Homo sapiens: one gene and its partner. The protein of the gene in region 1 purifies or fractionates together with the protein of each later gene. This does not show direct contact. Each region holds a gene or a part of one and is shown on either strand. Other genes may lie near its edges.

Evidence for each region.
Region 2: the proteins of TMOD2 (region 1) and SULT1C3 fractionate together in Homo sapiens (co-fractionation; one large-scale study listed by BioGRID). This does not show direct contact.

The regions. Positions count from the first base shown.
Region 1 is NC_000015.10:51,760,809-51,766,140, forward strand, and holds part of TMOD2 (tropomodulin-2), read left to right. Parts: intron 1-5,332. UniProt on the Homo sapiens protein: Blocks the elongation and depolymerization of the actin filaments at the pointed end. The Tmod/TM complex contributes to the formation of the short actin protofilament, which in turn defines the geometry of the membrane skeleton.
Region 2 is NC_000002.12:108,246,468-108,249,967, forward strand, and holds part of SULT1C3 (sulfotransferase 1C3), read left to right. Parts: intron 1-720; 5' UTR 721-727; coding exon 728-899; intron 900-3,500.

The DNA.
Region 1 (5,332 bases):
AAAAAGAAAAAAAAATCCTTAATCCTTAATCTAATCACAACTCATTTGTTTTGCCATGTAAAGTAACATATAGATGTGAGGAATAGGAGGAGGACGTATTTAGGTGGCCATGATTCTGCCTACCACAGAGAGCAAATAAGCCATTTTAGCCGAAGTGGGCTCCCCAGGAAAGTAACGAGAGAGAAAACAGGAAGTGCAGGTTAAAGCCAAATCATGGGAGCTTTGGAGCTAGATTGTCTGGATTTCATTCTGTGGACAAGAGGGAGCCATTGTAAGTTCTTAACCAGGGAAGTGGCTTGTTAGCAGTGTTGAGAAAAATGATCCAATTATAGTGTTCTGGGTAGCTTACAGGGAAAAACAGAAATCTTTCAAGATGCAATCAGAGTAGTGCAGGTATGAAGGAACAAAAGGCTGAAACAAGAGTGAAAAGAAGGGGTGGTGTGAAAAATGTTGTGCAATAAGGACCTGCAGGAGGTGCTGACCGGCTGGACTCAGAAAAAAAAGTGGGAGAGTCTGAAGCTGGTCTGAGTGTTGGGAGTGTCTGACTGGTAGATTAATCTAGACGGCAACTCTGTTTAGAGAAAAATTGGGAGTTTAGGTTTAGTTAGAGAATCCAGCAATAGAAATCCAAATAGAGGCTGGGCACTGTGGCTCATGCCTGTAATTCCAGCACTTTGGGAGGCTGAGGCAGGAGGATTGCTTGAGCCCAGGAATTCAAGACCAGCCTGGGCAATATAGTAAGACCTCATCTCTGCAAAAAAGAAAAAAAAATTTAATTAGCTGGGCATGGTGATACACACCTGTAGACCCAGCTACTCGAGGGACTGAAGCAGGAAGATCATTTGAGCCCAGGAATTGGAGGCTGCAGTTAGCTATGATCAAGCCAGCCTGGGCAACAGAATGAGACCCTGTCTTTAAAAAAAAAAAAAAATTCAAATAGAATCTTATAAACTCTAAGATACCATTGATTGTAAAACTCTCCAGTATTTTATGTATCACTAAGAAAAAAAGGCTGGCAATCAAAATATAACATGTTTTCTTAAAAATACAAATTTTTGGCCGGGCACGGTGGCTCATGCCTGTAATCCCAGCACTTTGGGAGGCCGAAACAGGCAGATCACGAGGTCAGGAGATCGAGACCATCCTGGCTAACACTGTGAAACCCTGTCTCTACTAAAAATACAAAAAAAATTATCCGGGCGTGGTGGCGGGCACCTGTAGTCCCAGCTACTCAGGAGGCTGAGGCAGGAGAATGGCATGAACCCGGGAGGTGGAGCTTGCAGTGAGCCGAGATTGCGCCACTGCACTCCAGCCTGGGTGTGAGTGTGAGACTCTGCCTCAAAAAAAAAAAAAAATACAAATTTTTGGCTGGGCACAGTGGCTCATACCTGTAATTCCAGCACTGTGGTAGGCCAGGCTGGGAGGATTGTTTGAAGACTGGAGTTGGAGACCAGCCTGGACAACATAGTGAGATCCTGTATCTTCAAAAAATAAAAAAAAAATAGCCCGGCATGGTGGTGCACACCTGTAGTCCTAGCTACTTAGGAGACTGATGTGGGAGAATCGCTTGAGCCCAAGAGGTCAAGGCTGCAGTGAGTTGTACTGACATACAACTGAACTCAAGCCTGGCAACAGACTGAGACCGTGTCTCAAAAAATAATAATAATTTTTACTTTATTGAAAGAGCTGTTTTCGACTTCCACATAGGTTTTTTGAAATCTTTTTTACTGAAGTGTAAATGACATACAATAAAGTGCACATATTTCAAGTGTACAGTTTGATAAGTTTTGATATATGCATGTATGTGTGAAACCATCACCACAATCAAGGTAGTAAACATATGCAACATCCCCAAAAGGTTCCCCATGCCCCTATGTCATTCCTCTCATCAGCCCCTCCCACCTCTCTCCCATGCCTAAGCAACTGTGATTTCTTTCTGTCATATAAATTAGTTTATGTGTTCTAAAATTTTAGATAAATGGAATCCTGCAGTATACATTCTTTTTGGTCTTCTTTCTCTCATTATAATTATTTTGAGGTTCATCCATGTTTTTGTGTACATCAATAGTTCATTCCCTTTTATTGCTGAGAAGTATTCCATTATGTGGATATACGACAATTTGTTTATTTTTATTTATTTATTTAGGGACAGGGTCTTATTCTGTTGCCCAGGCTGGAGTGCAGTGGTGCAATCATAGCTCACTGCATCCTCGACCTCCTGGCTGAAGCAATTCTCCCACCCCAACCTCCCGAATAACTGGGACTACAGGCATGTGCCACCATGCCCAGCTAATTTTTAAAAAAAAAAATTGTAGAAACGGGGTCTCACTGTGTTGCCCAGGCTGGTCTCAAATTCCTGGGCTCAAGAAATCCTCCTGCCTCAGCCTCCCAAAACATTGGGACTACAGGCGTGAGCCACTGCACCTGGTCACAATTTGTTTTTTATTCATTTACTATCATTCACATTGTTTTCAATTTTTGGCAATTACAAATAAATGTGCTATGAATATACATGGATTTTTAAAATCATATATCTCTCCTGTGCATACATTAAAAGGGGAAATGTAAGTGAAATGCATTCATTAGTTGATATTCTTAAAACTTCTTCACACTCAGAGTCCAACATTTTAGATCACTATTTTACTTATCCATATCTGGTTCTTTTCCACATAATAATTTCCTCTGTGCCATCGAGTGGTAATTTAAAAAATCTGTAAAAAAACAAAACTAAAACTAAAAGCCATTGAACTGGGCACTTAAACTCACTCTGTAATTATGTGGAACTGTCCTAATCTGGGCCTCTCTTCAGGAGTGCTGCTAAACATACCTGCATTGTCACCTCCCCACGATTGTCTGCTTTCTAAATTTTAAAAGAGTATTCCACAGTTGTCCCTGGGATTTCCTTCCAAGACCTTTACATCCACTCTGCTAGTTTTGAAGTTGGTGCTTTTGATATTTAGGTATATACAAGCAATGACAAGTACATTTTTACTGCTGCTGGGACAACAGTAATTGTAGGACACCATGAATTCTAAGACACATCTCAATTTCAGAATGTTAAATGTGGCAAAGTATGCATTTTAGAATCCATTAAGTAGGGTGCTTCAACCAATTCATTTGATGGATAAGGGCCTGGAAGATGCCATCCTTGTCCTGTGTGATGCAGTAAGTTAGTGGTAGCTGGCACCAGAACAAAGTGTATAGGATCCAATTGGTTTCTCTGACTTTAGTAGAATTTTTGTTTGTTTATTTACTAGAATATAGTCATTAAAGATTTAAAAAAAAAAAAGGAGGGCTGGGAGACCTCATCTCTACAAAAAAAAATTAAAAATTAGCTAGGCATCGTGGCACATGCCTGTAGTCCCGGGCTTCGTGTTGCACACTTGTAATCCCAGCTACTCCAGAGGTTGAGGTGGGAGGATCACTTGAGCCCAGGAGCTGGAGGTTGCAGTGAGCCGAGATGGTACCACTGCATTCCAGCCTGGGCAACAGAGGGAGACCCTATCTCTAAATTAATAAATAAGAAGCTGAGCTAATGGAAAAGAGCGTTGCATTGCATGTGAAAGGGGTATCGACACAGAAACCACAAACCTGAACATTGTGAGCCGTTGAATTCACAAAGGAAAGGGAACACTATTCCAATAGCCCTTAAGAGGCCCACCTGCAGCCAGTCTCGTTCCATGCCAACTCATTCTTCATTCTTATGATTTGAACTCATAAAAAAAGATTGGCGTGCTCAGATCACTCCCCTACTTTAAGAAGCTGTGGTGGCTTGCCATTCCCAACAGAATAAAGTTCAGGTCCCTTAGCAAGGCGCAGAAGGAAGGCCCTTCACAGATGTCCCACCCTCGTCTTTAGTTCTTTCCTCTCCCTTCCTCCATGAATCCCCCTCTGTAGCCATGCCGCCTGCTCTACCAGCATATCATTTACTGTCTTATCCTGTACCCCTTTGTGCTGTTCCCTTTTCCTAGAATGACACTTGCCCATTCATGTCCACCTTATGACCTCCTCCTTCAATGTTCAAACACAGCCTCTTTTTCACAGTTTCCCCTCAAACTTCCCCCACTTACTCAGTGATTATTTCCCCATGTGTTTTCAAACCTACTTTTTACATTATGTCTAATACTTACGGCATTATTGCTGTTTGTGTGAGAGTCTCACTAAGCTGTGATCTTGGGGAGAGGGGGCATTTTGATAAATATAATTTTTTTTTTGAGAGAGTCTCACTCTGTCACCCAGGCTGGAGTGCAGTGATGCCATCTCAGCACTGCAACCTCTGCCTCCCGGGTTCAAGCAATTCTCCTGCCTCAGCCTCCCGACTAGCTGGGACTACAGGCACATGCCACCACACCCAGCTAATTTTTGTATTTTTAGTAGAGATGGGGTTTCACCATATTGGTCAGGCTGGTCTCAAACTCCTGACCTCAGGTGATCCACCTGCCTTGGCCTTCCAAAGTGCTGGGATTACAGGCGTGAGCCAACGTTCCTGGCCTCCTCATGTGTTTTTAAACCTACTTTATACGTTACGTCTAATACTTATGACATTATTGCTATTTGTGTGCCTGTCTCACTAAGCTGTGATCTTCTTGGGGAAAGGTGGCATATCTTGTTTATCTTTGTATTTCTGTTTGCTAGAACTATGCCTGGCAAATAGTAGGTATATAACAAATATTTATTGGCCTGAAAGATGTGATTGGTGGTAATACCTCCTAAGGAGAAACACAGTCAGTGAAGTACATTACTGTTTCCTGAATGAGTATTATCTTTCTAAGGAAGATCTGTAGAATCCTCTGCAAGGAGAAAGGGATTGAGTAAAAATTGCATTTTGGGTGAATATTTAGAAGTGAGGTGGTATAAAAAATAAGGGTCGAGAGAAGAACGGTCTGAGGGTATAAAGAATGAATACGTAGAACAAAAAGGAAATGGGACTAGAAATAGAATGGAAAACAAAGCAAGGAGAAAAATAGAGAGAGTGATCATGTGGCCAGGATTTTAGAATCGCACTTAGTTTAATTGCAGGGGAGTTACTGGACAATGCTTTCTCACATAGACGTTCCAAACTCTCGTTCCTGAATGAATCCCATTTTGTATTCTTCACATCACTCTCTCCCTGAAAAGACACAAGTATGCTTCTTACAACTGCCTTACAATTAGTGCATTGTTCTCCCCTGTTTTTCTATGGAGAGCCAGGGAAGGCAGAGTAGTATAAGGGAAAAGCACCCACTATGCTGGGAATCAGAAGGCGGGGCTCACGCATCCCAGCTCTGTGACCTCGAGCAAGGCACTAGGCCACTTTCACCTCAGAATTGTCATCTATAAAATGGGAATGATA
Region 2 (3,500 bases), on another chromosome or scaffold:
GAGCTTGTGCAGGGGAACTCCCCCTTATAATGGGTGGGGACACAGGCGAACCATATCAGACCCCAACTAAATTCCAAGTTTCCAGAGTTAGTAGACATGAGAGTTTTCAGGTACATGGGTACAAGAGAGTTTTTTCTGCTGTAACCCATGACTGATATTTCAAAAATTATTCCATGAATGAAAAAAAAACTACATGAAATTATGTTTTTTGAAGATTTTCTCTGTGAAAACTATTCAAGAAAATTGAGTATAGAATGCTCCTTAAAACCATTGTTTTGAATTTTCTTCAATGTAATTGTCTCGCTTCTAATTATACAAAATAATATCTTGAAGACAATGAAGCAATATATGACACATAACCCATTATATTCCCGATTAACAAGTAATATGGTTGTTAGGTCATGCAGCAGGAAAAAGACTATTTGGGTATAAATCTCAGCCCCAACAGGTATTGATTATTTTACTTTTATCAAATTATTTAAACTTATAATGACTTAAGTTTCCACATGTAGAAAACAGAAAAAACTATTACCTATTTTATGTGGTTGCTATGAAGATTAAATAATTAATGTACATAGAGTAAGTTGTTAGCATGTTATATGTTAGCTTTCACTTATTTTATGCTATTCTAATCAAAGGCAGTAAGATGATAACCCATACTATGAACCATAAAACAACATTTTTAAAAATTTTAATTAGTATTGATCTTACCCATCCCAGATTCCCAATGGCGAAGATTGAGAAAAACGCTCCCACGATGGAAAAAAAGCCAGAACTGTTTAACATCATGGAAGTAGATGGAGTCCCTACGTTGATATTATCAAAAGAATGGTGGGAAAAAGTATGTAATTTCCAAGCCAAGCCTGATGATCTTATTCTGGCAACTTACCCAAAGTCAGGTAAGGGTAGCAAAACATAAAAATATTCAATATTTTCACGTGAAATTATTGCATAATCTGTATTGATAAATGAAGCATGATTGGGATTTGGAGAGAAACAATTCCTCATTATGGAGATCTGTTCTTTGGTGCTGCAGGACATTTAGCATTCCTGATCCCTAGGACAACAATTTCCAATAGCACTCTCTGAAGAGAACAGAAAAGATTTCTAAATGCTTTGGTAGTAGGGCAGATAATGCTCCCATTCCAGAACCCATAGCATACATCAAATATAAGGTCAACAAATTGAAAGACCTATGGCTTTTTTAAACATCAACCCTCAAGACAGCCTTCTAAAAGCATGTCCTACTCCAAATATTAATCTATTATCTCAGATATTAAACACAAATTGATTTTCTAATCCTCTAAAGCTCTTGGAGGATGTCAGCCATGAATTTTCTGCTCTGTACCAAATTAGTCTCATTCAGAAAAGCCCAATGACTGACCTTGATTTAAAATGCCTTAGATTTCTAATTCTTCTCTAAAAATTCCTAGACTGGAACACATGCTAGAGTCAATGGGCACACCTAATGCCCAGAACTCACTTTCGATAGGCCATTCTCCATTAAAATGAACCACAGCTATTAGGAGAATTGATGATCCCACTCTTGGGAATAGAATATGCAAGGGGAATGTACTACATCTTCTTTTTGAAGGAGTAAGTGATCAGTATATATTCCCAGAATTGTTTGTTTGTATTAAATGTCTGTAAAAATAAAGCACACATAATAACAAAAAAATTGATGGGGACATGTAGAAGGATACAAGAACCAACGTGAAGGGGCTCTCACAGTAGCCACATTTGGGACAGTTTGAGCATCCAAAAGAATGATCACTAACTGATTGGGAGAACATTAAATAAAAACCTCCTGGTCAGCCATGCCGAAGGGACAAGATTGGATGTGTACTCCAGCCATAATAAAAAAGGAAACTGGATAAAATATATGAAACCACTGGTTTCTGACCTTGGATGACAGTTGTCTCAATCCTCAGACTGAAGATGCTTTCTGAATAGGGTATAGTTATAGGGTGCAAAAGAAAAAGCCATAGCAAACTCATTGAGTTCAAGAGCCAGGTGTAGGAGTTCTGAGAGGTTGAAGTGGCTGCTATTTGCAGGTAAGAGTACCAGACAGAAGGAAACTACACAAATAAATACCTTTAGATATCTTTAGAGAGGACCCTTTTAGTTTATTGTTGAATGGTAGACTGCACTTCCATAGAGCCTATAGCTCCATGAGATCAGGCAAGGAACCACCAGAAAACTATTAGCCATATAATTCCTAGAGATTATACAAGCATGAGAGACTTTTGTGCTCCAATCAGGATAGGATGGACAGAATTTTGGTCCCCATGACATTAGTCCTCTGTTATTACATCTGCCGTTATTTCAGATTACATTCCCAAAAGGATTTTGCAGTTGCTATTAAACTATCTAATCAGCTGATATTAAAATAGGGAGATTATTCTGGACTATCTTGACGGACCCAGTGGAATCATGTGAACAGGAAGTCAGAGAGATGTGGCAGAGGAGAAAGTCTGAGAAATTTAAAGTATAATAAAAGTTCACTGCATGATTATAGATTTAATGATGAAGAGAGAAAGTATCAACAAAACAGTTATCTCAATACTACAGCCACAAGCAACTGAATTCTGTTGGCATCTAGGAGCTTGGCAAAACACCCTGAAGTCCCAGATGAGAATGGCAGCCCTAGCTGATACCTTGATTTTAGCCTAGTGAGACCCTAAACAGAGGACTAGCCATGTTAACCCCAATTTCTAATCTACAGAAACTATGACCGAATATTCAGGTGTTGTTTTAACTCATGAAGCTTGTGGTAATTTGTTAACCACAAAGTCTTCAACCTAGAATTCCATATACCCAGTAAAAATAATATATTAAAATATTACTAAAAATAAAGGTCAAAGACTTTTTCTCTGACAGCGAAAAGCTGAATGTGTTGCCCGCACAGCTGCACTAAAAATAAATAAATAAAAAGTTATATTAAAGAAATTTATTCAGAGTAACAGAAAATAATAGTATACAAAACTTTATTATCTTTCAACATTCCAGCAACACACAGTTGGAATATGACATTTTAAAAATACCATTGATAAAATAAATAGCACCTGAAAACATGAAATATTCAGAAATGAACTTAACAAAGCTGTGCATGATTTGAAAGTGAAAACACTACGGAGAGAAATTGTATAAGACTTAAATAAATAAGGAGGCATACCCTATCTACGGATCAAAAGGATCAATATTTTTAAGATATCAACTGTTTCAAAATTAATGTATAAATTCAATCTCAATCACAAACTGACAAATTGATTCCAAGATTTCTATGAAAATGTCATTAAAAGCAAATATTTTTGATAGAGTAAAGTGGCAGGGTTTATATTAACTGATTTCATGACATTTAACTCAGCTTCAACATTCAAAAGACTGTGATACTGTTGATATTGTTGATAGACATAAATACTTGACCCTTACTTGGTGCCAGATGCAAAAAAGTCAAAGTGCAATGCATCAGACCTCAAAAAATTAAAATTAAATCTCTA